Linked DNA regions of Homo sapiens. The protein of the gene in region 2 purifies or fractionates together with the protein of the main gene of each other region. This does not show direct contact. Each region holds a gene or a part of one and is shown on either strand. Other genes may lie near its edges.

Region 1 (7,028 bases), on a different chromosome or scaffold from region 2:
CAATACTACAAAATTTCACAACCCAAAGAATTATTTCTTACTTCCACCTGCTGAAGTAAATGAAAATGCTGGCCATTTTCTTATTCTGAAACTCTTATCCTTTTGCATCCATTTCCTACCACTATCTTTTCTTAGTTCTGATTTAGGTTCCTTTTCTTCTATTTTTAAAATCACATCATCGTCCTTCTTTTCACTGGCTATCTCATTAGCTAACATGGTTACAGCTTTCTATTGTATGCTGATAACACTAGCACTGTCTTTTCTCTTGAATTCCACATGGGTATTTGTGTTATATTTTCTTTTTCTTCTATTCAGTATCAAAGAGTCTGATATGTGCCAGACACCAGGTATAGAATTATGGTGAGGAATAAAAGACACTCCTTACCTTTGACAGGCTTACAGTGGTAGAGAAAACAGACCAGTAAACAGGTAATTATAATATAGTGCTTGTTATAACAGAGGTGTGTAAAGGGTGTTATGAGAATACACAGCAGGGCTCTACTATATGCGTCCTATGGTCATCTCAAAACCAATTCCTTGCAAAACTAAACCATTTAATCCCCACGCGTCAGCAGATTCTTCTTTCTAGATTCTCTATCCTGGTTAACAGCCACAGATTCAAAACAACATCAAAAAAAAAAAAAAAAAAAAAAGAAAGAAAAAGAAAAAGAAAAAAAAGACACCAAACCAAAACAAATCTTGACTCCTCCTTTTCTCACCCTCCCTTGGAATAATGGATTTTAGTTCTAAAACATATCCCAAATATATTCCTTCTTCACTATCCCTCATGTCATTGACTTGTATTTTATTCTCTTTCAACCTGGCTATAACAAGTGTTTCATTCTAGACTCTTCCTAGTCATTGATTATTTAGCCCCCAAAGTTAATTTCTAAAACTTAGATCTGATCATATATCCCATACCTCCCCTTTCCTCAAAACTATTTATTGCTCCTGACTGAAAATACAATAAAATCCAAAATCCTTGTATTATTTAGTTCTTCAAAATCTGGAGCCAATTTCCATTCTAGTCTTATCTTCTTCTGTCACACCATACTATATACACAAATATGTCATGCATTTTAATGCTTTCAAGCCTTTTCATATGCTGCTTGCTCAGCTGGGAATGTGTTTTTGTTTCCGCAATCAGCCTTTCTCCACCAACAGCAACCTAGTGGATACAATCAAGTATTCAACCTCCCCCTTTCCCTTCTGCAGTGTTATTGTCTTCTAGGGCTCCTCAGGCTTTTTGTTTTTTAGTTCATCACAGAATTATAGCATTTACCACACAGTAAAATAATATCAACACTTTTTTTTTTTCCTTTTTTTTTTTTTTTTTTGAGACAGAGTCTTGCTTTGTCACCCAGGCTGGATGCAGTGGTATGATCTTGGCTCACTGCAACCTCTGCCTCCAGAGTTCAAGCGATTCTCCTGCCTCAGCCTCCTGAATAGCTGGGATTACAGGCATGCACCACCACGCCCAGCTAATTTTTGTTTTTGTTTTGTTATTGTTGTTTTTGAGATGGAGTTTCACTCTTGTTGCCCAGGTTGGAGTGCAATGGCATGATCTCAGCTCACTGTAACCTCCGCCTCCCAGGTTCAAGCGATTTTCCTGCCTCAGGCTCCCAAGTAGCTGGGAATTACAGGTGCCCGCCACCACGCCTGGCTAATTTTTATATTTTTAGCACAGACGGGGTTTCGCCATGTTGGCCAGGCTGGTCTCAAACTCCTGACCTCGGGTAATCCACCCACCTAGGCCTCCCAAAGTGCTGGGATTACAGGTGTGAGCCACCGCAGCCAGCCGTAATTTTTGTATTTTTAGTAGAGATGAAGTTTCACCATGTTGACCAAGCTGGTCTCAAACTCCTGACCTCAAATGATCCACCTGCCTCAGCCTCCCCAAGTGCTGGGATTACAAGCGTGAGCCACCGCACCTAGCCCAACGCTTCTTTTCTACTCCGCTATATTGATCAATCCATTCATTCCAGAAGCAATTACTGAGTATAAACCACCATGTCAAATGCTGGGAGTATAACGGGCACAAAGAGTCCCCCAAACTACTTGTGGACAGGGGTCTTATGTTTTACTCGTAGTAATTTCATTTCCTTACTTACGGGCAGTGTTCAATAAATTTGGTTGGTTGAATATACTTCATGGCTGTTTAACTAGTAGGGTCTAAGTAATATGAGGAAAACAAATGACAAACATGCTACTCTACATGCATGTACTGGGGATGTGGACATGGATGAAGACTAAACTCTTCATCAAATCCCCAACTGTCATGATCAAAAAACAGTTAACACAGTCACAAAAAATATACCTTGGGTTCCCTTTGGACCAAACACTAACCACTTCCCTCCCAATCCCCATCATTTTTGTTGCTCAACCAGTGAAAAAATGGGTACAGCTTTAGGGAATCTTAAGCAAGATGACTAAATCATCTTGCTAAATCAAAAGAGAAAACAATACTTATTACTTCTTGAGTGTCAATTATATGCCCAACATGGTACGAACAAGTTTTACTTGCATTATTACTAATCTTCACACCTTGCCAGATGGGTATTAAGTTCATATGACAGACAAACTAAGGCTTGGGCAGGCTGAGTAACTCGCTTAAGTTCAGAGAGAAAATTGTGGAACTTGATCCAAACCCAAGTATCTAGGTGTCTCTGTTCTTTTCTGGATTGCATCTCTCTCCCTCTCGATGTCCCTATCTCCATCCTCTCCCAATTCCAATCCATCCTCTATGCTGCTCCCAGTTGTACCCTTCTAAAACACAAATCTGGTGAGTTTACTCTCTGTTTAGAAAAAGAACAAGACAGGATGCAACAAAAGAATCAAGTCTGAAAGATGCTGTAGCAGGATAATTCCTGTGGGTTTGTAGCTCTTTAAAATTAAACAAGCAGGGTACAAAGAAGCTATAAAAAATCACATTGCATTAGTTTCAGTTTGTGTGTGTGTGTGTGTGTGTGTGTGTGTGTGTGTGTGTGTTTTCCTGGCTCTGAACTTTGTTTCACTGCACTGGTTTTCACATGAATTTCACACAGCCTATCCCTGGAAAGGGTGGGACAAATCAAACAAAACTCAATGGAACACCATCCCTTCTTTATAAAAATAAATTCCTTTCCACCACTACTAACTGCTAAACAATAGATGTCTTTGTTTTCATTCTGACTCTGAATTTTGAGACTATTTCTTTGAATTATTTTAGTGAGCTAAGAGAATCATAATAATTTAAGCTTTCTGATTAATTTCAGGTTACGTTAAAAAACCAAAACCAAAACCAAAAGAATCAAAACAATCATCTTGGGCCTACCTGCACTTAAAGGCAAGAAAAACTAGCTTATCTAAAACTCACGCTTAGGCAAATTTGAGCCTACCGTAACTGTGACAATTTACTTCTTTAAACTATTAAATCACTTTTAGTTCAATTCTACATTAACTAAAAAAGATATCGGAATTAAACAAATACAGGAAATTGTAAAACAAAATAAAACTTTAAAACATCTTTTTTATAAGTTGTAATCTTTTTGCATTGTGATTAAGTAATAACACAAACATTACCATCTTAGCCACGGAAGTGTACAATTTTGTGTCATTAAATACATTTACATTGTCATGCAACCATCACCATCATCTATCCTTGGAACATTTCCTTTCTTAACTCTGTGCCCATTAACACTAATTCCCTATTCTCTTCCTCCTCCAAAAACCACTATTCTACTTTCCATCTCTAAGAAATTGACTACTCTAGGTGTATCATATAAGCAGTGGAATTACACAATATTTATCATTTCATAACTGGTTTATTTCATTTAGTATAAGTCTTCAAGGTTTATTCATATTGTAGCATGTGTCACAATTTCCCTAAGGCTGAATAATATTTCAATGTATGTATGCCACATTTATCCTTCAATAAAAGTAAGTTTCAAAATAATTATAACTTTATAGGGTCTTTAGGGGGGATATCAGGTGTTTTCCATTACAGTTCCATGAGGTAGATGTAAGTAGCTCCATGTTTAAAAATGGAGTTTCTGAGGATAAGCTACTTAATCACTCCTTCTCAGAGACTTGGGATATCCATGTCTTTCTCACCCCAAAGTTCATACTCTCCCCACTATATCTTGATACTTCATACTTCTAATGAAAGGTACAAGAGGTAACAAGTAGGGATGAAATGTGCATAAAACAGAGTTCATTTAACTCTGTTAATTATGAGTGTGATAATGCTGACACCTGAAAAAAATCTTGCCAATGGTTTTCTCATGTTCCCATGGATATTTCAGGAAACACACTTTAATTTTTTCCAGAACTCTACATATGCTGGCTTAATGCCATTTCAACACAATATCTGTGAAACTAAATATTTAAATTGTTATTTGGATTCCACGTCCACAATAGAAGCTATCCCTGGGAACACAGGGAAAGTCAGCTTAATGTTAATGTACTACTCATTCACAAGGTCAGATTATATTCCTGACTTGCTAGTACAGATTTTAAAAACTGTTCAGATTTCTACAGTATAATTTACATTAGCATTTAATAAATGTAAAAATATGAGTATTTTTAAGCAACGCAGGGTTAGTCAAAGACTTTTCCTCTTTTTAGGAAATTAGTCAATATAGTTCCTTCTCATCTACAATAAAGAAAATGAATCTATTCCACTTAGAATATGCATCTGTTTACATTCAGATCTAAAATGTATTATTCACTTCTCTTTAATCTACATGAATTTAAAACTCAGCAGGCAAATCATTCAACAGATGATCAAAGTCTAAGATAAATGCAGAAATATAATTTGTCTTTTCTATGACCTGTTTGATTTTCAGGGGAATGCATGTAGGCAAACCATGAATGTTTGGCAGAAGATACGTGTTTTCTGTGCCTTCCAGTATGCTATCTCGTATTATCCTTCATGATAGTTAAAATATACTCCCAAAGCTGGTCCAAAGACAGTGAGTTATCTCGATTGTTCAGTCAGTTACAGAACAAACTCCTTGTTCTACTCTTTTCCCCGTTCTCACTACTGCACTTTAGTAGTCTTAAAAAATAAAATATATTCCCAAAGGATTCTGCATATCATTTCCTTAACTGATAAAAGATCATCCTCAGAAAATGGAAAACAAAATTATAAACCATAGGTTGTTGGTTAGTTACCAAAATGCATAAATAAGGGAAAAAGGGAGAAAGTTTTAAAACAGTCAAATTGTTGTTAAAGTTTGACTTAGTAACATTATGTTAAAGTTACCACAGAAACTCACTTGCTAATGTACCTTCAGAAATGCCAGATTTAGGTACAGAGAAAAATTTATTTCCACAAAGACTTACAGAACCCAAGGAGTAGTAGTTTATAACACAAATGCTGATGCAACCTTAACAGGAAATACATAACAACTATGCATTAATTCTTGGAGAGGTACACAATTAAGAAGATATATTTCTCATACTTTACAACCAAGATAATACATACATACTATTTAATGTCAGGCAGGAGCTTAAAAGTAGGTTTAGGGCTTTATTTCACTGTATAGTGATCAGAAAAAGGGATTTAGGGGGAAAAGTCTGATAGAAAACAATCTTCAAAAAATTCTCACTGAGTACCTCAGAATATTATGGTTGATTTGGAAAGAGGAGGGAAACTTTCAGGCCACATTGTATAAACTAATGTGTTCAAGACTTGCACACTTCCATATTTGGTCAGTCTGCACATGAAGAGAAACAAGGCTGTTAGGGTCAACGTGAATGGTTACAATGTAAGCTTAAACGTCTATCCAATATTGTTACAAAGTTTCTAAAGAATAATGATCTCAGGATCAACACAAAACAGAGGGGTGAGGGTGGTTGGGATGACTAGGTAACCAGTTTATGCTAAAAAAAAAAAAAAAAGCAACAGCTATGATGTATACATGGTGTTTTTCCAGGCATACTCACGGGCATTAAGTCCTGAGCCTTGAATTTTTTTTCAGTGGGATCTAACTATGTAAACTCAGTAAAACAAGGTAACTACATACAAAGCACCAAAATGTCATGCCAAATTCTGCTTTACGTACCTTAAATGAGCACTTCTTAAATATTTGAGTTCTATCTCCAAGAAACATTATTTAACAAACTATAGGAACGATCCCTGAAGTATAGTCTTGCTAAGAAAGATTATTTAGGCCGGGCGCGGTGGCTTTCTCTTGTAATCCTATCATTTTGGGAGGCCGAGGCAGGTGGATTACCTGAGGTCAGGAGTTCGAGACCAGCCTGGCCAACATAGTGAAAACCCGTCTCTACTAAAAATAAAAAAAAAAAAATTATCTGGGTGTGGTGGTGCGCGCCTGTAGTCCCAGCTACTCGGGAAGCTGAGGCAGGAGAACCTCTTAAACCCGGAAGGCGGAGGTTGCAGTGAGCCGAGATCACGCCACTGCACTCCAGCCTGGGAGGATGCAGTGAGCTGATATCGTGCCGCCACACTCCAGCCTGGGCGACAGAGTGAGACTCCGTTTCAAAAGAAGAAAAAAAAAAGAAACAAACAAAGATTATTTAAGAGTGTTGTCACGTTGGGAGGCCAGAGTGGGAGGATTGCTTGAGGCCAGGTGTTTGATAACAGCTTGGGCCACACAGTGAAACCCAGTCTCTACAAACAATAGCAAAATTCACTGGGTGTGGTCGCATGTGCCTGCAGTCCTAGCTACTTGGGAGGCTGAAGCAGGAGGATCACTGGTGCCCAGAAGTTCAAGGTTGAGGTGAGCTACGACAGCACTACTGCACTCCAGCCTGGGAAAGAGAACAAAACCCTATCTCTTTTAAAAAAAAAAAAAAGTGTGTTGTATTCATTTATTCCACATGCTTGAGAAGTCTACTGATACCTGATTATATTGAAATTACAAAGATAACATTATGGGCAGCCTATGTCAGAACCTTAGCAAACCAGTGTTTTTACAAAGATACTCACCTGTAGCACCAATTTAAACTATTTTCTGAAAACTGTATTCAAAAATTCCTTGTTAAAACTACTGGGAAATAATGAGACCTCCAAAGGAGGCTTT
Region 2 (7,028 bases):
CACTTATGCCCATATAACATATTACACATTTTACTTATTTGTCTTTTGTGTCTTGTGTCTCCCCAACAAGAATGTCAGCTGTAGCTCCACTTGACCAAGGTCCCTCCCTCCATCCTGCAGCCAGTCGTTAGGACAGTGCCTGACTCGCAGTACAGGCCAGGGATGGGGCACAGAGTTGGGTGAGTTGGCATGCTCTCTTTCTCTACCCTAAAGCTCAAGTTTCTTCCCCTCCCCTCCCAGGCCAGGAACTGCCTACAGAAGCTCCGGGAGGATATAAGTAGCAAGCTTGACAGGAACCTAGGAGATTCTCTCCATCGACAGGAGATACAGGTAATAGGAAATGGTCCATGGTTGGGTCCCCACCGAGGAGGTGGGGTTGTGCCAGGCAGTCTCATTTACCAATTACCCAGTGTGTGCTAAATCTAGCATCCCTGCCAGGAATGGAGAAAATAGAGGTGATGCTGGCTTCTCTGGAGCACTCACAATCTGGTTAGGACTCTCCAGCCGATGAGCACTTACATTTACACATGTCAGCTTAAACATAAGTACACCTGCTCCTGAAACACTGTACAGAAATTGAACTTATATAAATTAAATATCATCAGTTGTTAGCAAACCTCTTATCTATAAGGATTCTGTGATCAAGCTTCTTATAATAATAGAATTTTGTAAAGCAGACAATCACCTGTAAATCCACACTTCTCATAAGCTGATCTTGCTTAGTTTGGGTGATACCTGTAGCGTAAATTGAAGTCCGTGCCCTAGCCTGTTATTAATCTTGTATATAGTTATGTCTAACCTGGGATGGGAAGTTCCTCAAGGTTAGGAGTTCACCCCACCCCACCCCACCTCGTGTCTGTATCCTCACCCTCCCATTCCCCCCAGGTCTGGGATGTAGAAGGCATCAGTAAATGTTTGTTAGACTGAACAGATTGGGTAAGTCTTTCCTGGGAGGGATAATCCTGGGATCCTGCTTTTCAGTTTTTCCAAAACTCGAGGACAGAAATGTCCTCAGGAGAGCAGAGCTGTCTCTTTGTGACTTCGCCCTCATCCTTTAGATTCTGAGTTGTATCCTTGATTTGCATTTTGGTTCAGGCAGAGTCTTGCTCCAGCAGCAGCCCCTGCCTTCATTCCCTTGAGGGGAACAGTGGCCCAGCAGCTGGTGCAAGGAAAGTTCTTTGTCTTGGGCATGCACTTGTGTGGTGGAAATTACCTAATTTTTGCTTTGGCTGAAGGTAGGTCTTTCAGTGCTTGAGCTCACATCTGGCTGGTGGGAGCTACTTTGTCAGGTATCAGAAGAACCTAATGTGTGCAGAGACTGGCCCAAAGTCCAGCCCCCTTGTTTGCACAAACCGGCTGTCATATGATGAATAATCAGGCTTTGGGTCAGAAATAATTGAAAAAGATCTTCCCTTTGTAATTTTTGCTTTGTCAAACTTTATCAGGATCCCTGGGGGCAAGGGAAGCTCTTTGTTTGTGGCAGGCAGCTGCATGTATTCCCTGGCTAAGAAGAATGGGCTACACATACTTTTCCATCTGCTGAAAGATTTTAGCCTGAGGTTTTTTTCATCCTCCCTACAAGACTTTCAAGGCCCTTTCAAGGCCGCATAACATCTCTCCACCCCCTCTTGTTTCTATTTTCTCATGGAACGCTAGAAATCTTTTCTTCTTTCGCTTCGTTCCTTCTTCCTCTTCTCCTTTCTTCATTCCTTCCTTTTTCTCCCTCCCTTTCTTTTTCTCTCTCCCTCCCCCTCCCTTTCACCTTCCTCTCCCTCTCCCTGTCCTTCTCTTTCTAAGATTTGAGTGTTAGGAGAATAATGTTTCAAAGTTGGTTGCTTTCATCTGTTTTAACTACCAATTTTATTTTTCTTTGAACAGGTGGTGCTAGAAAAGCCAAATGGCTTTAGTCAGAGTCCCACAGCCCTGTACAGCAGCCCACCTGAGGTAGGTAACAGAGGACACCATGGTGGCTCCGCTTAGCCAGGGGCAGGATTGCCTCCTCCCCATCCTTTTGTTTATTGCTTTCTCTCTCTCTCTCTCTCTCATTAAATACAAGAGTAGTAGTTGACATAAAAATTCAAACACAGAGAAATACAAAGAGTAGAAATTCTCCTTCCCCAATCTCTCTCCTTGCGAGTATCCACTGTTAACAGATTGAAGTGGGTGGATCTTTCTAGGGCAGTGCTTCTCAGCCTCAGCTGTTCATTGGAATGGCCTTGCAAGCGTTAAAGGATATGATGCCTGGGTCCCATCCCTAGAGCTTGTCATTTCATTGTTCCAATAGGTGGCCTGGGCATCAGGACTTTTAAGAGCTCTTCAGGTGATACTAATGTTTAGCTAAAGTTGAGTGCCAGTATTCTAGAATATTTTTATATACATAGACAACCATATTTAAATATCATGTATATGTTATATACACACCATATATACATGATAAATATATGTATATAATATACATGTGCTTTTCTCAACTATAAGATCATGGTAAATACATTATTCTTTGCTTGCTTTTTTTTTCTTAACTAAAGAGTATATTATAACCTTCTTTCCATGTCAGTACATATAGATCTACCTCATTCTTTTGAATAACTACATAGTATTTCCTTCCATGGCTGTACTTGATTGATTGACTGATTGATTGATTGATTGACTGACTGACAGAGTCTCACCCTGTCACCCAGGCTGGAGTGCAGTGGCAATCATGGCTCACTGCAGCCTCGACCCCCGGGGTTCAAGCAATCCTCCCACCTCAGCCTACCCAATAGCTGGGACTATAGGGCACGCGCCATTATGCCTGGCTAATTTTTGTAGAGATGGGGTTGCCCAGGCTGCTCTTGAATTCTTGGGCTCAAGTGATCTGCTTGCCTCGCCTCCCAGAGTGCTGGGATTATAGGCATGAGCCACTGTGCCTAGCCTACTTTTTAAATTTTTATAATTATTATTTTTTGGGACAGGGTCTCCCTATGTCATCTGAGCTGGAGTGCAGTGGTGCAGTCATGGCTCATTATATTCTCAACCTCTTGGGCTCAGGTAGTCCTCCTGCCTCAGCCTGGGAGGGACTGTGGCAGCCACTATAGTGGCTGGGACTATAGACACGTGCCACCACACCTGGCTAATTTTTGTATTTTTTGTAAAGACAGGGTCTCATCATGTTTCCCAGGCTCATCTCAAACTCCTGGGCTTAAGTGATCTGCCCACCTCGGCCTCCCAAAGTTTTGGGATTATAGTCATGAGCTACTATGCTTGGCCTCCATGACTGTACTTTATTTGTTATTTTTTGAGATGGAGTCTCGCTCTGTCACCCAGGGTACAGTGCAGTGGTATGATCTTGGCTCGCTGCAACCTCCACCTCCTGGGTTCAAGCAATTCTCGTGCCTCAGCGTACTGAGTAGCTGGGACTACTGGCGTGAGCCACCACGCCTGGCTAATTTTTGTATTTTTAGTAGAGATGGGGTTTCACCATGTTGGCCAAGCTGGTCTCGAACTCCTGACCTCAGGTGATCCTCCCACCTTGGCCTCCCAAAGTGTTAGGATTACAGGCGTGAGCCACTGCACCCCGCCACCATTACTGTATTTTTAAAAAGTGTGTTATTATGTTTTTTTGTGATTATACAATACAAAACATTCATATTGTAGAAAATTTGGAAAATTCAGAAACACAGGAAAGTGAAAGAAGAAACAAATATCACTTGTAATCTACTCAGAGAAAAACCACAGTGAAATTTCATCTTTCCCCGAATGCAAATATATATTTACCATGTGAATACATTGTACAGTATGTAGCATTTCTTTATAATTTTTTTTTTGTTTCTTTAGTTGGGTATGTTTTTGCATTCGGTGTTTTTGGCCCTCAAGTATAGGTTGAATCAGACCCACCCATTAGTTCATGACACATCATCCTCATGGGTCCTGTCAAGGCCTCTCACTGGTTTCAGTTTTTTGTTTTTTGTTTTTTTTGCCTCTCCACCTCCTGCAAGAGAAACTCACTCTAATGAATTCAATATATGGCTTTAAATATGCCTGTAAAATGTTCAGTATACATGATGAACTTGTGCTATATCTTCTTCCCTCTTTGTTCTTGTTTTCCCTGGTACCGTGTTTTTTAGGATCTATCTACATTGCTGTATTAAAATCTAGTTCATTGCTTCTGCCTCCTACATGTACTTTTATAACTTACTTTTTTGCTTCATGTTATATCATATGATGAAATAATATTTTCATGAAAGTTTTCCATGTCATTAAACAGTCTTATGAGAACACTCTTTGAAATAAGTGCATAATAGCTGTGTTCCAGGAACCTTTTAAAGGCCATTGGCTCAGGTGAGGATTTAGGGAAATTGACTGGATAACTCATGACATCTAGATTTGGAATGCTGTGATTCTAACCACTTGCTTTAGATGGGCAGCTTGGACTTTCTCCTTCTTTTGAATCACCATATTTGGCAAATACATTGTTGGCAACAAATTATAATAACACCTGGTAATATCTGTTTGGCCTCTTTCTTCTCACAAGCTCAAAGCTGTACCGGATGTTATCTTACCTAGTTTTGAGGCAGCCTGTAAGGCAGGGTGTGGTAGGGAGTGTACTGACTGCCTCACAGATAAAGAAATGAAGGCCCACAGGACTTCACTTCTTCATTATCACCCACAGGATGATGATGCAGAGACTGGGACACTGTCTTCCTCCAGTGTCTGGTGCCTGTGCAGCAGAGACGGGGGTGAGACCCTACATGTTAGCTCATCTCTAACCACCAGCCCACAGTTGGGTGTGTCTGGGAGAGACTGAGCAGTTACCTCGATGAGACACCTTTTTCCACATCGAATCAGATTCGTGGACTCATTGCATGCTTTTGCCCTAAACCTGTCCATCCATCAGTAACCCTTTATATGCTGCTGTCAGTGCCAAAAGCTGAGAATGGTAAAGGATGTGCTTTTGGACCACTCCCTTTGTGATGGGCGCGACATAGTCCCTGTCCTGTGGGAACTCTAGTCCAAAGGGGAACATGGTCTCTGCTCTCAGAGAGCTGTAGGCAGATAGAGGGAAGCAGGATGCACACCTACAGACAGCATCCACATATTCACCAAGAAATCGATTAGTGGATACATACATGAAATATTACTGAGCATGTCCTAAAATAATTGGGTGTTTTGAGGCTAGCAGGGTTCTTTAGGGTATGAAGGGACAATGTTTCATTGAATAACTCAGAATTCCTGGCTGCCTAAGGTAACTCTCCCCTTGTGTGATGACAGTTCTTTTTTGAGGGTGGTCTGGACGAGATGGTCCAAACCAGTGTGTGCCTGGGAGGGGGGACCTTTTCTTACTGAGTCAGAAACTTGAGGGCTTCCCCTTCCCTTCCTTGTTCTGGCTGTAGGTGGACACCTGTATAAATGAGGATGTTGAGAGCTTGAGGAAGACGGTGCAGGACTTGCTGGCCAAGCTTCAGGAGGCCAAGCGGCAACACCAGTCAGACTGTGTGGCTTTTGAGGTGAGATTTGGGATTTGGGGAGAAGGTGCCCTAAGGGATGGGCTACTGAACACAGGTGCCAGTGATGTCTCAGCTTGGACTTCCTGTCTTTCTGGCTGAGTGCCACAAACTGGAAAGGCAAGGCTGTGAAGCCTGGAACGCTTGTCTGCTTTTCCCTCTCCTGGACGTTTACACTGTTTACTGTCCAAGGCCAGCCCATAGTTCAAAGGTCAGCTCGGGATTCTCTGCTCTGATGAGTTTGAGGGTGGTGCCCATCTGGGGCAGCCGGTGATTCAGAAGTCATTTCTGTCTGTGTCGTGGTAAGAATCCCTGGGCTCTTGAGACTCCGTGCAGGCAAGGACTGCTGCTGACATGTCACCCCCGAGTCTCCAGTGTCTGGTGCAATACCTGGTATTAGATAGGTGCTTCATAAACGTGGACTGGATGAGTGACTAAATCTGTGTTGTTGTAGAAAGAACTGTACCCATCGAGTTGGAGGATTTGGGCTCTAAACTCAGCTTTGCTATGCAGAGCTTTGTGGTCTGGAATGAGTATCTTTTTTTCACTCTGCTGCCAAGCTGGAGTGCAGTGGCGCAATCTTGGCTCACTGCAACTTCTGCCTCCCGGATTCAAGCAATTCTCCTGCCTCAGCCTCCCGAGTAGCTGGTACTACAGGCATGCGCCACCATGCCCAACTAATTTTTGTGTTTTTAGAAGAGACGGGGTTTCACCATGTTGGCCAGGATGGTCTCGATCTCCTGACCTTGTGATCCACCTGCCTCAGCCTCCCAAAGTGCTGGGATTACAGGCACGAGCCACCATGCCCGGCCTGGAATGAGTATATTAATTATTGTTATAATACAGAAATCTATAAATGGAGAGTAAAAGCCCCCTACTATATGTGAGGTCTTCCATATTTTCTAGAAAATTCTTTGAGTATAAAACAAGGTACATGGGCAGTTTTCTTTCTGTCTTTGGAGACAGGGTCTCACTCTATTGCCAGGCTTGAGTGCAGTGGCATGATCTTGGCTCAATGCAACCTCCATCTCCCGGACTCAAGCCATCTCCCACTTCAGCCTCCTGAGTAGCTGGGACAACAGGTGCACACCACCATGCCTGGCTAATTTTTGTGTTTTTTGTAGAGACAGGGTCTTGCCATGTTGCCCAGGCTGGTCTCAAACTCCAAGGCTCAAGCAGTCTGCGTGCCTTAGCCTCCCAAAATGTGGGGATTACAGGCATGAGCCACCACACCTGGCCCATGGGCAGTTTTCCAACTGCTCTGTGTGAGGTTAACCATCTGTTACCTGCTTTTGTTCTTCCACAAGTAATGTATTCTTTGTGTTATAAATATGTTATGATAGGGTTATAGCCTGCCTAGGCATGCTAGGAGCTGGTAAAAAGAGAAAGGCCAGCTTGAACTCTTCATTTTCATGGAACTGAGAAGGAGAATTTTTGAGAAGAGGCTTGGCGGTGAGGAGGAAGGGCACCAAGGATGATAAACTGCTTCTATGTTAGCCGAAGTATTATTTGAACAAGTAGTTTAACCTCTCCAAGCATCTGTTT
Region 3 (7,028 bases), on a different chromosome or scaffold from region 2:
TAGTCACCTTCAAAGGTCTACAGTGCCTTTATTACCTGTGGATCAAACCCAAAGGAAAGATCTCTCCAAAGAATTAGATAACATGCATAGTATAATTCCTGACCCTTAAGATGTAACCTCTGAATATATTATTTCAAAGTTACACACTGTAACTGAAAACCCTAAGCACAGCTGATTTTACAAATGCTTTATGTAATCTCTAAGGTCAAATAATATCTTAGGTAAGGTTATTAATTTTTGATCAAGGGTATATTTTTCTCCAATTGCAGATTTAGAAAATTAGTTACTATTTTTGCATCTCAATTTTCCTCGACTGAGGTACTTCAGTCCTACAGTTTCTCCCAAACACTTCCACTTTATCTCATGTACTTCATTATTTTCCCCAATCAATTCTTTTTCCTCTGCAGCTTAAGAAATTAGTCATTTTCTTTTATGTTTGTTCTTCTGTATATATGTTCCTATACATAAGGTGACTATACAGATGCAGCATATTCCTATACTGTGAATAAAATAAACTGAACTAGATGTGTCCTTATTTTCATAACTAGTGAAAGGAGAGAGATATGGCTATAAACAAAAGTTATTAAAATAGATGCAGAACTTTTTATACACATACCTGAACTGTTTGGACTTGTGGAGACTGAATAACTGATGGCTGGGCCGCCTGAATGACTCCATGGACTTGAACTGTCTGCCCATTGGGCAGCTGTACTAGAGTTACGGTGGGAGCAGATGATGTTGCATGAGCTGCTGGCATAGATACCTATGGTGTTGAACACAGAAAAGAATTATCATCCCAGACACTCTTTGGCAGTACTCATGTTCAATATGAAATAACTTTTTAGAAGCAAAAACGTGACCTTTTTGCTAGATATGTATTTCACTGATATGAAAGTAATGACTAAATTTAATATTCTTTAAGAAAAAACACTATAAAAAACACCAAAAACTATACCCCTATCCTTTTCAGCTCTTCCCAAGTGACAAAAAATTAAAAACTATTCCCATGTTATACCAAATATGTAATACAGACTCTCTGAACATGAGATATCACTTTATTTGTATGGCACTTTACATTTTCCCACCTGCTTTCATTTCCAATTTCTGATTTTGCTATTTGAAGAAACTGAAGACTGGGTGATAAGGATCTCCATTTTTAAAAACACAAATAACTGCTCAATGAGATTAAGTGTTCACCCAAGGTCAACAGATATACTATCCTTGAAGAAACATAAAATTCTAAAGAATATCATGTTAAATAAGTCACGTTCTAAAATCTAACTGCTCTCAAGCATAAGCAAACCTGACCTACTAAGTCTAGAACTAAGGCAGTTTTAATGAGTCAATACCCAGGTTAAAAGGGTCCTTAAATCATACATGTCTATCAGATGTTATTTATTGCTCCTATGCTTGAACACATTCAAGGATAGGAATTTTATTTGCTAAATCAGGAAACAGTTATTGGGGACCTATGTTCCAGGAATAATGTTAGAACTGAAACTACAAAAGTGAGAAAGATAGGGGTCTCTGACCTCAAATAAATTATTGGGGGTATGTATGCGAAGGAATGGGGAAAAGAGACACAATACAATTCAGTTTAGTAATGAGGTTTGCTAAAAGAAAAATGGACACACTGAGAATTACTCTACCCAACCTAAGAGAAGGGGAGGCTATCAGGGAAGAATGTGAATTTAAAACAAAAGAAAAAAGTTAGACTTGTTATTATTACTTACAGGGAAGAGTCACAGAATTTCAAGCACAGAGTGGAGTAGTGGCAAAAGCAAAGAGAAACAGCACACATGGCAGAGTGGGATAACCAGCAGCTCAGCACCAATGGTGCACATAAGTGTGTTACTGTATGATGTATGAAGTAGGGAGAGAGAAAACAACAGAGGCAGGTGGGGCTAGATGTGCTAGTCACAAAAAGCCTGTATTATGTCACCTCAGAGAAACTGCATTTTATCCTGAGGGTATTGCAGAAGCCACTGAAGGGCTTTTGAACTCCTGAATACCATGGTGATGTTTGCTTTTAGATAGATCACTTTAGGCCGGGCAATGTGGCTCACGCCTGTAATCCCAGCACTTTGGGAGGCCGAGGCGGGTGGATCATCTGAGGTCTAGAGTTCGAGACCAGCCTGGCCAACATGGTGAAACCCCATCTCTACTAAAAATACAAAAAATTAGCCAGGTATGGTGGCAGGTGCCTGTAATCCCAGCTACTTGGGAGGCTGAAGCAGAACTGCTTAAACCCAGGGGGCAGAGGTTGCAGTGAGCCGAGATCGCGCCATTGCACTCCAGCCTGGGCAATAAGAACAAAACTCCATCTCAAAAAAAAAAAAAAAAAATCACTTTAGTGGCAGTGTGAAAGATATATATTTCAGGGGGAAAACTGGTGGTGGGGAGACCAACGAAGAAAGCCCATGAAGTAGTTAAGGAAAGATGATGAAGGCCAAAAAGAGGGCAGTTAGTAGTAGTAGAGATGGGAACGAGGGAAGTGATTTTATGAAAATTTGGAAGCAGTCCAGAAAGGGCTTTATGAATAGTTAAAAGAGGTGAGAGAGGAACTGCAGATGACCCAATGTTTCATGTCTGAAAGAGAATTGGCAGACTGTCCTTAATTGAAAAAGAGAATGCAAGAAGTAAGGATAGGCTTTTGGGTGACTGGGGTTGTAATGGAAGATGATGAAACTACTCTGACATCTGAATTTGTAGAGATGTTTATTTTAGCAGGCAGCGAAATATGTGACTGTGAAGCCTGGGGGGAAGATCCCTATAAAGACAGTGTCTTTGGCATATAGGGTAAAACCAGAAGCTTCCATCTCTGGATAGTAATAAAGTCCTTACTTATTAATCACTTTCTCTCTGGCCACTATAAATCTTGCTTAGTTTTATTTGATTCTCAAAATGTGGTCCATGGAATAGCTTCATTAGAGTCACACAGGATACTCTGTAAAGTCAACTCTAACAGGAACCCAATCATACTTTCCCGTACACTGAAGTTTGAGAACCATAACCTTATTCAGAGTATCTCATCTCAATTCCATATAAATGCTCTTGTAATATTTGAAGCAATTACTATGTTCTCTTTCCTGAGTCTTCTCTAGGGAAAATATACCTAGCTAACTCAATGAATAATCCCTTTTCTACACTAATAATTTTATATAATGGCTCCTCTCATTATAAATTTATAAAATACAGATATAAAAAATAAAATAAAAACCCTTTATATTCCTATCACCCATAGCTAATCACTTTTAATATTTTTGTTGTACATCTTCTAGATGTTAAGGCACATGTACATTCAATTTTTATTTGTATTTATTTACTTTTTGAGATGGAGTCTCGCTCTGTCACCCAGGCTGGAGTGCAGTGGTGCGGTCTCGGGTTCATGACATTCTCCTGCCTCAGCCTCCCGAGTAGCTGGGACTACAGGAGCCCATAACCACACCCAGCTAATTTTTTTGTATTTTTAGTAGAGACGGGCTTCACTGTGTTAGCCAGGATGGTCTCAATCTCCTAACCTCGTGATCCGCCTGCCTCGGCCTCCCAAAGTGTGGGGATTATAGGTGTGAGCCATCACACCCGGCCCATACATTCAATTTTTATAACATGCTATCTTTACTCAGCCAACCTTTCTTTCTCATAAAACCACTGAAAAACATGCTTTACCATATCAAAAACACAAACTGTGAGAAAATGGAAGTAGGGAGAAAGGAATTCCCAGGATGACACAATACAGCCTACTCTGGGGACAACCAGACTGGACAAAATAGTGTGACTCCAGAGATAAGATGTGTTAAGGGCTATCATCATAAAGAAGCCTGCTGGCATTGCATCTTCTTTTTTTTTTTGAGAGGGAATCTTGTTCTGTCACCCCGGCTGGAATGCAGTGGCGCAATCTCAGTTCACTGCAACCTCTGCCTCCCGGACTTAAGCAATTCTCCTCCCTCAGCCTTCTAAGGTCGCTGGATTTACAGGTGTGTGCTACCACGCCTGGTTAATTTTTGTATTTTTAGTAGAGATGGGGTTTCACCATGTTGGCCAGGCTCGTCTTGAACTCCTGACCTCAAGTGATTCGCTCGCCTCAGCCTCCTAAAGTGTTTGGATTATAGGCGTGAGCCACAGCGCCCGGCCTAGCATTGTGTCTTCCTCTTTCTAAAGGGCAAAATATACAGATGAGCCCAGATTCTTATCTGTTGACCCTATATTGATGGAAGTCCTGGCTCTCTCCCCTTCAATCCTGCAGCCTGCCTCGTATGAGTACATTAGATGTATTTGGCTTTGTCTTATTCCTGAAGGCTGGAGGTAAACCCTGGTGGTCTTAGGAGAAAACACAGAACAGCTCACTCCTTCTGACTATATTCTTGCTGGAAATCCAGTATCTGGCTCACACTACCTCAGCCAGACACCCAAGTGTGGTGAGTCCTCTATTTCCCATGATTCATTCTTGCTAGGTGACTTCTCTAGGAACTTTTAAACTCTTGGAGAAACTGAAGCTACATATATCAGAGCTTCTGCTAGGATTATATTCTCCTGGGAACCTTCATCTGAAAGAGACGGTATCACACTATTACCTAGCAGGTCTGTATCTGCTATTTGTTTTTTAAGTTAACCACCTTTCTCATTCCTATCTATGTAAACAGCTGTTAATAAAATAGTTGAGGAGAATGCATGCAAACAAAAACATAAGAATGAGAGAAAATATTCTTAAAGATAGGATGTTAAAGAGAAAGATGAAATGAAAGAATCAGAAATTATATTTAAAATATACAGGAAACAAAAACTGCTATCATCCTTAAAATTTCCTTACATGTCAATTTATTTGCTTATCCTAATTTTTAGTTTAGTTATATAAACTTAGGCTTTCATATTATCTGCATTCCCACTGTTAAAAAATAAATCTGTGTCATATTAAAAAAATAAAAAAAGCAGTTGTCATACATAGCCAAGGTTTTCTTCCCTTATCTGAGAGCACCATTTACCCATAAGTTTAAAATGTAATTATTTCTGGATCATTTCACTAAAAATACTGTATTATTGTTTAATAATACATTTTACTGTTATTGAATTAATACTATCATTTCTAAATATACTCTAATACTAAGTAAATAGGAATTTTGATATTGTAAGAGTATCTCTGCTCATTCTATGTATATCTATGTAATAACAACTAAATTCTCTTGGAAACGTATTCCTCTAGGAAGAGACACAAACTGGAATCTCTCCATGTATTTTATACCTGGGCTAATGTGGCAATCTGTGGCTGGGCTTGAACTGTCATTTGTTGGTTTTCAGCTTCTGTTACAGCTGCATCTCCACTCTGCTGGTTCTCGGCTCCAGATTCCATGGTCATTTAGTTACCTATAATAATATGGAAGAGTGTTACAAGCACCACAGTGCTTTGTGCTTTCGTGACTTTAAAGGCAAATTTCAAGTTATAAATAGGTATATATGTGGTGGTTAGGTTACCAAATGAACTCAGAAATCTAGCTAAAATATAATGTAGCTGAATTACCATCAAACTTATTCAAATTTGCTGAGCTATAAAAGTTCTAGTCCCTTCAAAGAAGAAAAAAACATTTCTTCTCCCTTGGCTGTTTCTTCCCAATGGGATATTACCTTGTCTAGAAATAAAAGATTCTTCTCTTACATAAATCTCCCCTACTAACAAGGAGAGGTGCAGTGGTAGCAAAATTATAATTTTTCAAAACTATACTAATCAGGTACAGAGAGATGGCAGAAGAGTGGAAGTGAGCTAATGATGACAGAGTTTATTAGATATTGGCTTCATAATACCTCCTATAAGGGTATTTCCCCCCATAAGAAGGAAGAAACAGCAATTGTAAGCTACTTCTAAAAGTGATTACTAGTGGTAGGACAAAATCAGCCCGTTTCAAGCCCAAAATTTTTTAGAGATGAGGTCTTGCTCTGTTGCCCAGACTGGAGTGCAGTAGCATGTTCTCACAGTTCATCTCAATCTCAACCTCAAACTCCTGGGCTCAAGTGATCCTCCCGCCTCAGCCTCTGGAGTAGCTGAGAATACACGTGCATTGCACCATACCAGGTAATTTCAAGAGCCCAAGTTGTGGAATTTCAAGGTAGAAAGGTGGAATAAATGGCCACAGAGCCAAATTAGAGGTGCCAAACACTGAAAAAGCATTCTGATACCTCACCCCATGTATAGCATGCAACACTATACTGTACACATACATCCACACACAGAGAAATCTTTTATTTATATATTTTAATTGTAAAATTCTGGGTAAGACAAAAATTGATCTTACATTTGGACTCTGCTTTGCTAAGCACTTAGTATATTTGTAGGGTAATGTAACACTGGATGGCAGCAAAAGTGGAGTGGAGAGCAATTCCTACCAGCAGTAGCTACTGTAAATCAAGGTTAGAGAAATCTCTGGTAACTGGGGAAGCAATCCTGTCTAAAGGATTCAGGAAAATAGGCAATGTTTCTAGTGCCTATTATAATTCAGTGCCTCACATATTATGTGTCAAAACAAATTTGTTAATAGTGAGGGACTACCTTTAGTGATTCCACAAACAACACAAAAAGCCCATGACTTTTCCAGAATATATTTCATTTATTTTATAACTCTGAAATTGGTCATCAAAACTGTCACTGATCCTTGTGATCATTACACTCCATCACAATGTATTACATACTAATACATCTTGCTATCACTCATAAGGTTCTATAAAAAGAAAGTGTTTTACAAGTGACAGTTCAAAAAATGGAAATGAAAATAACTCTGTAGAAATGAATATAGTTTGGAAATACCAAAATCCACAAAACACAGATGACAAGGAAAAAGATCAACAGACTTGACTACATTATTTAAAATATTCATAAAGCCACAAGTGCACTGACCATATAATCGATAGTAATATCCAGAGATGTAGCTCAACAGTATTCACTGTAAAATTTTTTAAATCATAGCAAAAAAACCCCTGAAAACAATTATCCATCATTAAGAGAACCATTACAAAATTGTAACCATGAAAAAAAATTAATA
Region 4 (6,984 bases), about 23 Mb from region 2:
GAATTTCAGCCCTACATAAAACCGTGAAATAAAAAAGGTTTTCTTCTGTATCTCCAGTTTTACCTGTTACATCTTTCGCTCTCTCGGTGATTTCTCCCTTCCTCCAGTAGCCAGTGCCTCTTTTCCAAATCTTCCTGTTAGTAAAAAAAAAAAAGACTAAAAAATCATGTGATAAACTCATTTATATAAGATTAGTGATTCGAGTCATGAAGTGCTCTTCTTGGGCAAAGTTGATTTAAATAGGGCACAGGATTTAAGTCAAAGTGAAAAAAAAAAAAAGTGTAACGATGGGCTTTCAGGCATCAGGTAGCCCAGTCAGGGAAGGATTTTTTGGTGTGGTCAAATTCCTTTCAAGACCCTGTAAAATCTTGCCAGACAGCTTGTTACCTTTCTATCATTGGAAACGTATCCTTGGAAGAGTCATATAATGCAACTAAAGTTATTTGTTCCATAGTATGCATGGAAAGATTTAGCTTTATCTGTAAGAAATACAAAGCCAAACTCGAACCTTCTTAAAAAGCTGTCAAAATCAGGCCGGGCACGGTGGTTCACGCCTGTAATCCTAGCACTTTGGGAGGCCGAGGCGGGTGGATCACCTGAGGTCAGGAGTTTGAGACCAGCTCGGCCAATATGGTGAAACCCCATCTCTACTAAAAATACAAAAATTAGCTGGGCGTGGTGGTGGGCACCTGTAATCCCAGCTTCTCAGGAGGCTGAGACAGGACAATCGCTTGAACCCGGGAGGCAGGGGTTGTAGTGAACCGAGATTGCGCCACTGCACTCCAGTCTGGGCAACAGAGTGAGACTGTTTAAAAAAAAAAAAAAAAGCTGTGAAAATTTATTGTCTCAGAGGAAGGGGTAGGCTTCAAGCTGGGTTTGAGTGCTTCCATCATGTGTCAGCTTCATCCTCAGGCTGGCTTCCTCATGGTAGCAAAGTGGCTGCAGTAACTATTGGACTCACATCTACCCATCACACTAGCCAGAGTAAGAAAAAGAGCACTTTTCATTTCCCAACAAACACAAGATATGGCCTTCCATGTGACTGGCACCAATTTAGACTCATGTCAGTGCCTATCAGTGAATACTGACAGGTCAAGTGAGAATGGGATTAGGCTGATTATCACAATCACTGTCCACACCTGGAGCGGGAGATGGGCCTAATCAGATCCTTGGCTGTCTTGCAATTGCAGAGGGGTGGAAATATATTCTGGGGAATCAATCAATATAATGCTCACTATAAAATCAATATGATATTCTGTACCATTAGATACCAGTTTAAACTCTTACATTATTGTTCAATGTTTAACTTGTTTCTAATTTTTTTTTTCTTTTTTGTGGAGACAGGGTATTGTTATGTTGCCCAGGCTAATCTTGAACTTCTGGGCTCAAGCAATTCTGCCTTGGCCTCTCAAAGTGCTGGGATTACAGGCATGAACCACTGCACCTGGTCTGTTTCCAATTTTTGATATTACATTTTAAACTAGGAGTTGCAGACATAAATGAGAGAAACAACACTGTAAGATACAATAGAGAATGTAGAGACTTTGGCAAAAGAGAGAATGCATGTCCTGCAGCTGATCGTTATCATGTAATAATGTAAGCTCACTGTTACCAAATCTTCCACTTTTTAAAGAGAAGCCCAAAATGCATGTATAATCTTCTGGTTTTTAACTTTGGATATGTGTTTTTTTAAGCACCATGTATGCCAAACAAAACATGTTTGTGGGTTTGATTTGTACCTGGGGCACCAGTTTGTCATGTTATGAATCATGCTGGAGTATTTTATAACACCATCTCTCAAAGTGAGAGTTTCAGTCCTTTCATGGACCAGGGCTGCTAGGATACGCTTAATGCAAATGAAGCCACAGTGGAAAGAGAAGTGAGCAGCACATACCACATGAAGAATGCTTTGTTATTAATTTTTTATTCCTTTTAGTTTCTCGACTAAAAGCCTGAAGATCTGTTAATAATTTTTTGGCATGTGCTTAGAATTGTTTTTCTGGTGGTAAGGATGAGTTTGCATCAGATCACCTTAATTGTCTTTTATCTAGGTTCTCTCATGACTTGTCTCTTATCTATGTTGTACTGTGAGGAAAAGTTCAGTTTTAAAGAATGACCCCTGTTGATGAGAGGTGTTACATGTGGCCATGGGACAGGATTTTTCTTTTCCTTATAGCAAGTTGGCACATGAAGATAGCATGCTCCACTTAAATAGAAGAATTAACTCGCAGTGGCCAGTGGTGTCCACTATTGCTTTCAAAGACATATGGAACTGAATTTGGGGAACACTAAACTTGTTTTGGACTTGCCATTTTTTTTTTAAATTCTTTTTTAGCTAAGTTACCTATTGAATGCCCATAATTACCACATCCATTGTCCTTTTTTGTCAAAAAGCTTCACTCCAGTTAGAAGATACCTGAAGGCAGAAACTGCGGCTTTGTCAACTGTTGATTTCCTCATGGCGCGCAGTGTAAATTTACTAGTACTTTATTTAGTAGAGGCTTAGTACTTACTGGTTGGCAGATTTATTAATAGTTCCTGTACATCTCAGGAAATCAACAGATGATTTATGTTATTCTAACCCTAACTTTATTAAATATAATAAAAACTTTCAGCATTTATTGTCAGGCCCAGGGCTAGGTAGGCTCCTGAGATACAGAAGTTAATAAGGGAAGCAGCCCAGAAGGTAGGGGAAACAAAAAAATAGTTACAACACTCTTGATATGTCTCAGCATCTATAGACATTAACATCAGGAAAAGCGGGGGTGTGGGGGGAAGGAATTTGTCAGGGAGGGCCCTTTGGACAAATGTCACGTTTCTCAGAGTAGCTTTTAAATATGGGTGGGAAAATGAGGGCAGGGGAATTGAAGTGGGATAGAAGGGAGATATTTAAACTAAAGTCATTCTATGGCTGCAATCACTGGACACTATATTCACTTATCCATGCAATCACATTCATTGAGTGCTTCCTATGAGTTAGGCAGGGTGCACAGTGTAAGATACAAATGAATGATACAGGTTCACAGCGGTTGTCTAGTGGGATAAAATGCTGCACAGGGCAACCTGGATAAGCCTGACATGTTAGGTGCCACAAAACTACAGAACAAAGTGCTAAGGAGATTCGGAAAATTTACAGGTCATTTCTGGTTGCAGGATCTAGAAGAAGGATGTCCACAATTCAAGGATCAGTACAATCTTCGTAGCGAAAAAGCGTTGGTTTATTCTACCTCTACCTAGTTTGTACCTCAACATCTTTTACCCCAAAGGATAAAAAGGTGCAAATGAGGGCACATTTTCTTCATATAATACGTAATGGTGCTTACTTATTGCTTTCCTGTTCATTCCCCGCAGGTGATTTCCCTCTTCAGTCTCCCCCGAGTCTCACAGAAGGAACTAACAAGGGAGCGCTTCACAAGCACACAGACACCTTCAAACAGGCGCAGAAGAGTACTTGGTGAAAAAGTATTCTTTCAGGTGACTTTCCTTAAGATTACTGAGCATTAAGAATGAAAATATGTAAACCAGGTTTACGAGCAAGAAAATAATCTCTCCACATTCAGAGTTAATCTTCCGAACTCAGCAACTGCCAGTAGAACGCACCCCGGTCAGGGCGGGCTCGCGGGCGCGGTCCCACCCCCAGGCCCCTCCGCCGCGGAGGTTCTCCAGCGCCGCCCGTACTCCCGCCTTTCGCGCGTCCCTGCTCTAACAGCTCTGGTTCTGTCAGGACCTCACTCCTCCGCTCCCGGCGCAACCGCGGCCACGCAGCGACGTGCACGCGCGTGTGCGCCGCCGCCGCCCGGCAGAGTGGGCGCCTCCGACATCAGGAGCGCGCACGCCGCGCAGAGGGGCCTGGACGAGCGCGCTTCCGACCCGCCGCCACCGCCTCCTCCCCTCCTTCTCGGCCCGCCCCCTCCCTCGCCTCTTCCTGCCAGGCGGCCCTTCTCCCCTCCCCTCTCAGTTCCCTCCGCCCTCCTCGGGCTCCAGCGGTGGCGGAGCGAACGGGACCGGCCCGGCTTCAGAGCGCGAGGTGGAGGGTGGAACGCGGGCGCCTGAAGGAGTTGTTGTCTCGGCAGCGCCCGCGGAGACGTGAAGAGGTGAGGCGAGGACGGCCTCCTAGGGACACGAGGGCGGCCCGGCGGCCCGGATCCGCGGGCCGAGGCTGCCTGGGTGTGTTGGCGTCGGGCTGAGCCTGGGGAGGGTCGAGATGGGGCCCCAGCCGAGGACTGGGATGCGGGAGGACCGCGGTAAGGAGGGTAGGGGGCGGGTTCAGGACTGTCGGCCGCCTCCCGGACACCGCAGTTCTCCCAGGTGGCCGCTCCTCGCGGATAGGGCGGGCGGGGTCGGCGCCCTTACCTGGGGGTGGGGTAGTGGCTTTGGCGGCCGCCTCCTCCAGCTGTGCCCTCCTGACATTGCTGCCTCGGCGGCTGCCGCCCGCTGCTACGCTGTGGCTGCTGCTGGATTCGCAGTCCCAGCCGCCCTGCGTCCGGTGGGCGAGTGGTTAGGGTATTTTCTTACCCACACGCAGGCTTCTGTACTCGACCATTTCTCTCCCTCGCCCTTCCTCTTCCTCCGCCGAGCACTTTGCTCGGCTCCTGCTGTTGATGCTTGTGGTTTTGCAGTTTGGGATGGGATGCGTTCCGGGCAGATCCCTACCTGTAGGGAATGCCCCGCTTCAAAGTTGACCTCCTGAGCCATGACAAACACCTCCCCCCAACCCCCACCCACCTTGTGAGTGCTCAGTGTCCTGATAACTGAGTCAAAGTTTCTGAGACTGGGCTAGTACTTTGCACTGGTCGCCAACGGTACAGGGCTGGGCAGTGCGTCAGCATGTGGAAAGGGGCCACCGGCTAGCGGGAGGTGGCCGGGTGCATGGGAGCTGAACTGACGGGTTTCAGATACTAGGCAGTGTGTCCAGGTCCTTGGATCTCTCAGATAGGGTTATATTAGAATATGTACCAAAACTTGGGTGGTCACTTGCAAAATTGGTTTCATGCAAGTAAACTGAAATGCCAGCCTTATTACACTAATGGTAAGGAGAACTTTTGCTTGCCTGACAGATTTCAGCGCAGTTTGGAAAATGATTTTAAGGCCTTTATTTTTGGCACTGGAGGGGTTTAGGGATTTTTAATACATTTAAATTTCCTCGTGCATAGTGGGAGGTAAGTAGTTGCTTGTTAAAATTCTGAAAACACAGTTTCATGAAAACCTTCTGACTTTTCTTACAGTAGTGTTTATATTTGGCATCTTCCGTAGAATATCCATTAGTTATGATGTCAGAAGATACGGATGTGAAGTTTGCTTTTTGTGATCACATTGGAAGTGGATTTTGTTCATGGAAAATACTGGTTCACAAGCTCCTAGTACTAGAAAACTGGCCTGTGATTCATTTTCTCAGTAGAGCGTCCCTTATGAAATTGACAATGAGATTTCTAAGGAGAAAGACTAGTTGAACTTTATGTATACATTATCATCAAATTGTATTAAATGTACACCTGCCTGAGGGGTTAGCTCTAGACTTTGAGTTAGACTGGTGTCTATACTAAATCAGTTCAATAAATGCGCTGATATTATGTATTATTCATTTGGAGAGAAGTAGATAAAGCAGGGCAGAGTTTATATTTTAACATATTATGTAGCCTACATTTGCTCTGATGTGTATTATTATTATTATTATTATTATTATTATTATTATTTTTGAGACGAAGTTTCGCTCTTGATGCCCAGGCTGGAGTGCAACAGCGCGATCTCGGCTCACCACAACCTCCGCCTCCCGGGTTCAAGCGATTCTCCTGCCTCAGCTTTTTGTGTAGCTGGGACTACAGGCATGCGCCGCCACGCCTGGCTAATTTTGTATTTTTAGTACAGACTGGGTTTCTCCATGTTGGTCAGGCTGGTGGAACTGCTGACCTCAGGTGATCTGCCCGCCTCAGCCTCCCAAAGTGCTGGGATTACAGGCGTTAGCCACAGCGCCCGGCCTCTGATGTGTACTAGTAAGTCATATGGGGAGAAGTAGATGAAATAGGGTAGAGCTTATATGTGAACATATTATATAACCTACATTGTCCTCTAGAAAGCTGGAAACAAGTTAGTAAGTCTCAGTACTATTGGGGCATATGGTGAATATACAAACCAACCTAAAAAAGTGTGACTGTAAATAGATGAAGTTTGTTTGTTTCTTTTAAAGAGACAAGGTCTCGCTCTGGCGCCCAGGCTGGAGTGCAGTGGCTCAGTCCTAGCTCACTGCAGCCACGAAGTTCTGGTCTCAAGAGATCCTCCCACCTCAGCCTCCTGAGTAGCTGGGACCACAGGCACATGCCACCAAACCTGGCTAATTTTTTGTTTTATTTTTGTAGAGTCAAGGGTCTCACCATGTTGCTCAGGCTAGTCTCCAACTCCTGGCCTCAGGCAGTCCTTGCGCCTCAGCCTCTCGAAGTGCTGGGATTACAGGCCTGAGCCAACGGTGCTTGTCCCATTTTTTTTTTTTTTCACCTGAGTTATTTGATGGGAATTTCTATATATTACAGTTGCGATGTTCTGAGAATTTTTGTTTCTTTGATAATTGTTTCATGATTTAGATGTTTTCTTTTTACGCTGGTAGTTATGATTTTTTTTTCCTTTGAATGAAAGAATTTTATTAGGCATGTGAAACAGGAGTTTTCATGTGATCAGCTCTCCAGTTCTAAATTTGTGACTTTTAAAAAACTTGAATTTTTTTCTTTGCCTTAACCCAAACTTGAATTTGCTCAGCCATTGTATATTTATTTGAACTCTCAGATGATACAGCATTGAAGCAGAAAGTCCTTTTATCCATGCTTTTGGAGTAATCAAAAGAAGGAATTCTGTTGTGCCAAGTAAAAATATGTGTGGGAGATAGCTAGGCTTCAAGAGATTGACTTTGAAGAGAGTAGTGGCTAAGTAGCAAAAATTTCCTATATTGAAGGTGTAGAAGTGGGCCTGCATTCCAACCTACCATTGTCTTCAAGT

Evidence for each region.
Region 1: the proteins of TUFT1 (region 2) and RABGAP1 purify together in Homo sapiens (affinity purification with mass spectrometry; 4 studies listed by BioGRID and IntAct, with this or other methods). This does not show direct contact.
Region 3: the proteins of TUFT1 (region 2) and CREB1 purify together in Homo sapiens (affinity purification with mass spectrometry; 3 studies listed by BioGRID and IntAct, with this or other methods). This does not show direct contact.
Region 4: the proteins of TUFT1 (region 2) and RABGAP1L purify together in Homo sapiens (affinity purification with mass spectrometry; 4 studies listed by BioGRID and IntAct, with this or other methods). This does not show direct contact.

What each region holds. Positions count from the first base shown.
Region 1 is NC_000009.12:122,944,003-122,951,030, reverse strand, and holds part of RABGAP1 (rab GTPase-activating protein 1), read right to left. Parts: intron 5,700-7,028; exon of another isoform or gene 5,599-5,699; intron 1-5,598. UniProt on the Homo sapiens protein: May act as a GTPase-activating protein of RAB6A. May play a role in microtubule nucleation by centrosome. May participate in a RAB6A-mediated pathway involved in the metaphase-anaphase transition.
Region 2 is NC_000001.11:151,564,285-151,571,312, forward strand, and holds part of TUFT1 (tuftelin), read left to right. Parts: intron 1-240; coding exon 241-330; intron 331-1,878; coding exon 1,879-1,944; intron 1,945-5,372; coding exon 5,373-5,486; intron 5,487-7,028. UniProt on the Homo sapiens protein: Involved in the structural organization of the epidermis. Involved in the mineralization and structural organization of enamel.
Region 3 is NC_000002.12:207,553,961-207,560,988, reverse strand, and holds part of CREB1 (cyclic AMP-responsive element-binding protein 1), read right to left. Parts: intron 5,362-7,028; 5' UTR 5,354-5,361; coding exon 5,240-5,353; intron 1,868-5,239; exon of another isoform or gene 1,734-1,867; intron 764-1,733; coding exon 617-763; intron 1-616.
Region 4 is NC_000001.11:174,155,564-174,162,547, forward strand, and holds the start of RABGAP1L (rab GTPase-activating protein 1-like), read left to right. Parts: upstream 1-3,956; 5' UTR 3,957-4,094; intron 4,095-6,984. UniProt on the Homo sapiens protein: GTP-hydrolysis activating protein (GAP) for small GTPase RAB22A, converting active RAB22A-GTP to the inactive form RAB22A-GDP. Plays a role in endocytosis and intracellular protein transport.